Homo sapiens: one gene and its partner. The protein of the gene in region 2 purifies or fractionates together with the protein of the main gene of each other region. This does not show direct contact. Each region holds a gene or a part of one and is shown on either strand. Other genes may lie near its edges.

Region 1 (3,500 bases), on a different chromosome or scaffold from region 2:
AGTATTATTGCCCCCAGTTTATTGATGAGGAATCTGAGGCTCCAAGAGGTTTCTCCCAAGGTGACACCACTCTTAAATGGCAGAACCTGAATTAGAATTCAGATCTGTCCAGCTACAAAGCTGCGTTCTTTTCATACTATTAGCAGTCTCCCTTACTTGGCATTATTGTGCTTGTCATCTTCTGTTAGATTGCCACTCTTCACAAGGTCATAGTTTATACAGCCTGGCTGGATGGCATCAATTAAATCCACAACTGCCAAACTGGAGCTGATCGTCTTGTCCTAGTGTGAAAGGAGAACAAATCTGAGAATTTTGATACATACAAATTAACATGTGCTTACTTATATCAAGTGCCAAAAACAAAGCCCAGTGAATTCGTAAAGAATTGTGCCATTAGCCCAACACTAATTCTCACTCACAAAGAAGCCAAAAGTTGCCTTCCCAAATGATAGATGTTATCCAGCAAACATAATATTTAATAGTCAAATATGGATTCTGACCTTAAAACTCTGAATGGAAGTTGATTTTCCAGCTTCACTCAACGTTCTGTTCACCCAGTTCACAATGATGTCGTCATTGGCTTTCTGACCATCTCCAAGATCTTCCAGGACATTGAGGGTATATCTAAGAGAGGCAGCAGAAGAAAACGTCACCATCTACTTTATGAGGAAAAATGCAAACATCAGAAAGATGCTTTATCTTCCACTTTTTATATTTCTTAAATTTTTCTTCTTTTTTTTGAGACGGAGTCTCGCTCTGTCGCCCAGGCTGGAGTGCAGTGGCGCAATCTCCTGCTCACTGCAAGCTCCGCCTCCCGGGTTCACACCATTCTCCTGCCTCAGCTTCCTGAGTAGCTGGGACTACAGGTGCCCACCACCACGCCCGGCTAATTTTTTATATTTTTAGTAGGGACAGGGTTTCACCGTGTAGCCAGGATGGTCTTGATCTCCTGACCTCGTGATCCACCCTCCTTGGCCTCCCAAAGTGCTGGTATTACAGGCGTGAGCCACCACTCCTGGCCCCTATATTCCTTAAATTTCAAGGACTAAAGATTTCATGGAAAGAGATTCACACTATGTGAAAAAAATATTTCAAGCAGTAGTGGCTTGCTACTGATCTACTCTTTGTAGTGGTGAGAGAGGAGCAGATTGACAGTGCTTTAATGAGCAGGTCCAACAGCCCACTGTAGGCACATTTTGTACTATTCCAATAGCGGTAATGGCATAAAATAAGCTGTGCTTTGGCTGGTGCCCAGTCATAATGAATGCTTTTCAGCATTATAGTGATCTTCATCAGCATTACAGAGAGAGATCTTTATTTTCAAATGAGCATGAAGATGTTCATAATTTTGTTCTGACAATTTTTTAATTCACTGACACTAAACGAGGCCGAAATCTGTGTGTCAGGCTTCCTATTTTTTAAAAAAGGGACTAACCATAGTTCTGCTGCCTAACTTGCAAGGAAGCATCTCCCACTTAACATCCAACATATATTCATTAATTAAACTCATTTCGGAGTGTAAATATAACATATTTCAAAAGTGTAGTTATCGACATATCCACTTATTAAACACAGTAAGGACTAAATCACAGACCTGTATGATAGTAAAGACTAAACAGCTAAAATTGTGTACTATACCTTCTCATCAGCTGCCAGACTAAAGCTAAAGTCAGGGTTTGGTTCCCATCATTCAGGTCTTGCCCTCCAATGCCAACCAGGGAGAATTTAGCAGGATGCTTCCCTAATTCAACAGCATAGTTGCAGTTTTCTAGCTGCAAAGGCACAAGAGTAAATGGTTAAAGACTTCCATTTGTTTAATCTGCATACGTGTGTGTGTGTCTTGTATAATGCTAGGTATCAGCACACAAAAACAAATAAGACACAGTTTTGTCCTCAAGAAGCTCAGCGTCAAGAGTTTTAGAAACAAAAGAAATTAATCGAGAATAAAAATACTCTAACAAATATATACAGCAACTTAATTATCTACCTTTTTCATGTTGGCTCCCAGTTTCGGGTATGGAGGTTTATTAACCTTACTCCAGTCAACAGGAACTTTAATTCGTTCATATAACTGTAAGATTACCAGGGCATCTTGCAGGTCACTAATGATTTAAAAATAATGTAATCAGTGTTTTCAGGAAGCTGGGACTTGACTTTCCTTAAAAACAGTAACACTACATTGTCAAACAAGATATATAAAACCATAAATAATACCCAAGACTCATATTTTCTATCAATCTGTGCTGAAAACAGAGCTAAGACCATCCCATTCATTTATAAGTATTTATTGAGAGCTTACTGTAAGCAAGGCACTGTTCTAGAGGCTGGGCCCACAGGACAAAAATCCCTGTCCTTGCATTAGAGTCAGAGAGATAGACAATAAACAAGTACATGGATAAACAAACAATACGGGGGGTATTGGTTTGTTGACAATAAACAAACAATTTTAGGGGTGTATGTAAGTGCTATTAAGAAAAAAAGGAACTAGGGTTAGGGGTTAGAGAGTAGCAGGTGGTAGTCAGGAAATCTTTGAATCAGTGACTGGAATACAGTAAGGATACGAGCCACTATATGCGAGCAAAGAACGTTCCAGGCTGAGAGAACAATGAACCAAAGTCCCTGAGTTGTTGTGGATGGTCTACTTAAAGGATTCCCTGGTCTCTGTTTCTTTCTTTTTTACCTTTCTTTTTTTTTCCCTCTTAGAGATAGGATCTCACTTTGTTGCCCAGGCTGGAGTACAGTGGCACAACCATAGCTCACTGAAGCCTCAAACTCCTGGGCTCAAGCAATGCCCCCACCTCAACCTCCCAAACAGCTGTTTCAAAATATAAAGTATTTGCTCCCTAGGGTACTATAAAGACATTTATATATTCTATCACTTACAGTTAACGATCATGTAAAGGAATACTTAAAGCTTTTGTGTATTTGGAAAATGATGATGGAAATCACCACTTGACATTTTCCAATATAAATAATAGCTACAAATTAATATCTAGAAAATCTTTAGAGCTGTCATTATTTAACATCCATTCATGACATTCGTAACTGTTTACAATAGCAGTAGGAAGGCTTACGCATAGAGATGGTTTACGTGAGGATTGACACCAAGAGAGTTCATCCAGTTACGGAAGGTTCTTTCTTCACGAGTTTCTCCTGTTAAGAATATTCACAAAATTTACTGATTCATTAAACACTTTATGTATGTGCATATAGTGCCAATACACATATTAGATTATTTTATCTCTCTATTCAGATCTAGAATTTTTCGATAATACGAGTTTCCAAGCATTCTTCTAAGTACATACATTCTCTCTAGGTACAGGCTTATTTTTAAAATTTGAATTTATTTTAAAATTAAAGAATACAACCTTATTCTAACCAGTTAAGCAATTTAGAGGTTTATGAACTTTTTATAGTCTCCTTCTCAAATCTTTCTCCAATATTTCCTCGAATCTGCATCCCTCAAAGTAACTGATGTTATCAGTTAAGTTACTGGTTTT
Region 2 (3,500 bases):
GGGGGGCCCAGCCCCTCCTCGTCCTCCTCCTCCTCCTCATCCTCGTAATCCTCCTCCTCCTCCTCCTCATCCTCCCCGAGGTCTTCCTCCATCTCCTCCTCCTCCCATTTGGGCTTCCTGGGGTGAGCAGAGGGCAGGAGTCAGGGGAGAAGGTGCTGGCTCGTCCCAGCCCAAGGAAAGACCCACTCCCCGCCCAGCCTCAGTTTCCCTCTCTGGAAATAGGAAGAGCCGGCCGCCGCCAGCTCAGACTGCAGAGAGCGCTCATGAGCACAGCGTGGGGCACCCGTGACGCCCACTTTGTTTCCAATTAGCCCAGAACAGCACAAGCCGTCCCTACAGCGTGAATTTTGGGGCCTTGAAAAGCATCACGCAGGCAGCCACGGTGGCGCACACCTATAATCCCGGCAGCACTCTGGGAGGCCAAGGCGGGAGGATCCCTTGAGCCCAGGAGATGGAGGCTGTAGTGAGCTATGATGGCACCACTGCACTCCAGCCTGGGCCACAGAGCAAGACTCTCTTGGGAAAAAAAAAAAGGGAATCATTACGGCAGGCTGGTTCCTGCATCCTGCACCATGCATGCTGTCCCAGCTCCACCTCCCCTTCCCTCCACAGGGAGAATTCTCCCACCGCCATCTGAAATCCGCCCCACCCTCGCCACTGCCCCTCCACGGCACCCTCCTAGACTTTCTTGGCAGCCGTTTTTTTTTTTTTGTCTTTTTTTTGAGAGGGAGTCTCGCTCTGTCGTCCAGGCTGGAGTGCAACGGCGCAATCTCGGCTCACTGCAAGCTCCGCCTCCCGGGTTCATGCCATTCTCCTGCCTCAGCCTCCCAAGTAGCTGGGACTACAGGCGCCCGCCACCACGCCTGGCTAATTTTTTTGTATTTTTAGTGGAGACGGGGTTTCACCGTGTGAGCCAGGATGGTCTCGATCTCCTGACCTCGTGATCCGCCCACCTCGGCCTCCCAAAGTGCTGGGATTACAGGCGTGAGCCACCACGCCCAGCCATTGGCAGCTGTTTGTACAACCTGATATCACCTGCTTCTTTGCTGCTAGGTTTTGTTTGGTTGTTTTTTTTTTTTTTTTGAGACACAGTCTCACTTTGTTGCCCAGGCTGGAGTGCAAAGGCACGATCTCGGCTCACTGCAACCTCTGCCTCCCAGGTTCAAGCGATTCTCCTCCTCAGCCTCCTGAGTAGCTGGGATTACAGGCATGAGCCACTGCACCCGGCCAGTTTTGTTTTTTGAGACAGGGTCTTCTCTGTTGCCCAGGCTGGAGTGCAGTGGTGTGATCACAGCTCAGTGCAGTCTTGACCTCCTGAGCTCAAGCAGTCCTTCCGCCTCGGCCTCTCGAGTAGCTGGGACCACAGATGCATGCCACAACACCCGACTAATTTTTGTACTTTTTGTAGAAATGGGGCCTCACTAGGTTGCCCAGGCTGGTCTTGAACTCCTGGGCTCAAGCAATCCTCCCACCTCGGCCTCCCAAAGTGCTGGGATTACAGGCGTGAGCCACTGCGCCCAGCATCTTTGCTTGCTCAGGTCCTCCCAGGAAGATGCGGGTTCCTGGAGGCCAGGATCCCACAGCAAGTGAGCCCTCAGCCAGCCCTGGGGGGACCCACACGCTATGCAGGTCCAGCCGGCTGCAGATTTTATCTGCCCCTGCCGCTGAATCTGCTGTAGCCATCGGTGGCTAGGTTGCTTTAAGTTAACTAAGATGAAACAAAGTTGGCCGGGTGTGGTGGCTCACGCCTGTAATCCCAGCACTTTGGGAGGCCAAGGCAGGCAGATCATGAGGTCAGGAGATCGAGACCATCTTGGCTAACATGGTGAAACCCCGTCTCTACTAAAAATACAAAAAGTTAGCCAGGCGTGGTGGCGGGCGCCTGTAGTCCCAACTACTCGGGAGGCTGAGGCAGGAGAATGGTGTGAACCCGGGAGGAGGAGGTTGCAGTGAGCTGAGATCACGCCACTGCACTCCAGCCTGGGCGAAAAGAGCAAGACTCTGTCTAAAAAAAAAAAAAAAACCCACATTCTTGGCTCACTGCAATCTTCACCTCCCAGGTTCAAGCCATTCTCCTGCCTCAGCCTCCCGAGTAGCTGGGTTTACAGGCTTCTGCCACCACGCCTGGCTAATTTTTGTATTTTTAGTAGAGATGGGGTTTCGCCATGTTGGCCGGGCTGGTCTTGAGCTCCTGACCTCAGGTGATCCACCCACCTCGACCTCCCAAAGTGCTGGGATTACGGGCGTAAGCCACAGCACCCGGCTAAAAAAACCATTTTTCTTTTGAGACTGGGTCTATCTCTGTCATCCAGGCTGGAGTGCAGTGGCACAATCACAACTCAACTTCTGTTCTCAAGGGATCCTCCTGCCTCAGCCTCCCCAGTAGCTGGGACCACAGGTGCACCACCATGCCTGGCTAATTTTTTAATTTTTTGCGGAGATGGGGTCTTGCTATGTTGCCCAGGCTGGTCTCCAACCCCTGGGCCCACGTGATCCTCCCACGTCGGCCTCTCAAACTGCTGGAATTACAGGAAGGAGATCCCGCGACCTGACCCTTACTCCCATTCTGCAGATGAGCAGAGTGACACTCAGAGCCAGTAACAGCCCCCAGAAGGCCCTGCCCCAGACCCCAACTCACATGTCCTCGTCGGAGGCCATGTCCTCAAAGTGCTCCTCTCCTGGCCCTTCTCTGCCTCGCCCGGGTGAGCCCGGTGTCCCCTCCCGGGCCGCGTCCTCCTCCTCCGAGCCTGGGGGCCCATCCTCAGAGCCGCCGGGGCTGGCTGGGTGTCCCAGGCCCGCAGCTGCAGCCCGCATGGCTGCCAGTGCGGCCATCTGAGCCCGCTGCATCCGGGCACTCTCGGGCTCTCTGTCCTCGTCGGGGGCAGCCCGGGCCCGGCCGGGGGGTGCAGCAGGGGGATCGGGGGGCAGCTGCTGCCGGGCCTCCAGCTCCTGGCGCGCCCGCTGCTGCCGCTGCAACAGCGTCTCCATCACGGCCTGTAGTTTCATGGCCCTGCGGCCCGGGCCACCACCACCACCACCACCACCACCACCACGGGCGCTAGGGGTGGGCGGCGGGGGCGGCCCCTGCGGGGAGGGGGCCCGGCCGCACTGCAGCGTGGGGGCCGCGGGGGAGCCGGGGCAGTGCAGGGTGGCAGGGGGCGGGGGCGGGGGCCGCCGGGCTCAAGCTGAAGGCTGATGGGGCATGCCTCTTCCTCACGCTGGGCTCCAGGGGACAGAGGCTGGCATCCGGCTCATTCACGCATTTGCAGAAACCTGAGGGGGAAAAAAGGCACAGTCAGAGCAGGCCTGAGCTCCTCAAGCCCCCTCCTTCCTTCCCCATGAAGGCCCTGGGGATCAGCTCTCATGTCCATCTCATGCAGGATGCAGACCTGGAGGCCTTCTTGGAGGCAGAGGCGCAGGCTCTTCGCATACAGCCTACTGTGGGCCTGGGTAGCAAGGTCGCCCCGCACGGGGCCACAGAGAAACACGCTGTGGCCAGA

The links. The genes of interacting proteins can lie anywhere in the genome.
Region 1: the proteins of ARID3A (region 2) and PLS3 purify together in Homo sapiens (affinity purification with mass spectrometry, with the first as the bait; one large-scale study listed by BioGRID). This does not show direct contact.

The regions. Positions count from the first base shown.
Region 1 is NC_000023.11:115,644,674-115,648,173, reverse strand, and holds part of PLS3 (plastin-3), read right to left. Parts: intron 3,154-3,500; coding exon 3,075-3,153; intron 2,103-3,074; coding exon 1,988-2,102; intron 1,773-1,987; coding exon 1,639-1,772; intron 625-1,638; coding exon 501-624; intron 282-500; coding exon 157-281; intron 1-156. UniProt on the Homo sapiens protein: Actin-bundling protein.
Region 2 is NC_000019.10:929,035-932,534, reverse strand, and holds part of ARID3A (AT-rich interactive domain-containing protein 3A), read right to left. Parts: exon of another isoform or gene 3,390-3,500; intron 3,274-3,389; 5' UTR 3,007-3,273; coding exon 2,639-3,006; intron 118-2,638; coding exon 1-117. UniProt on the Homo sapiens protein: Transcription factor which may be involved in the control of cell cycle progression by the RB1/E2F1 pathway and in B-cell differentiation.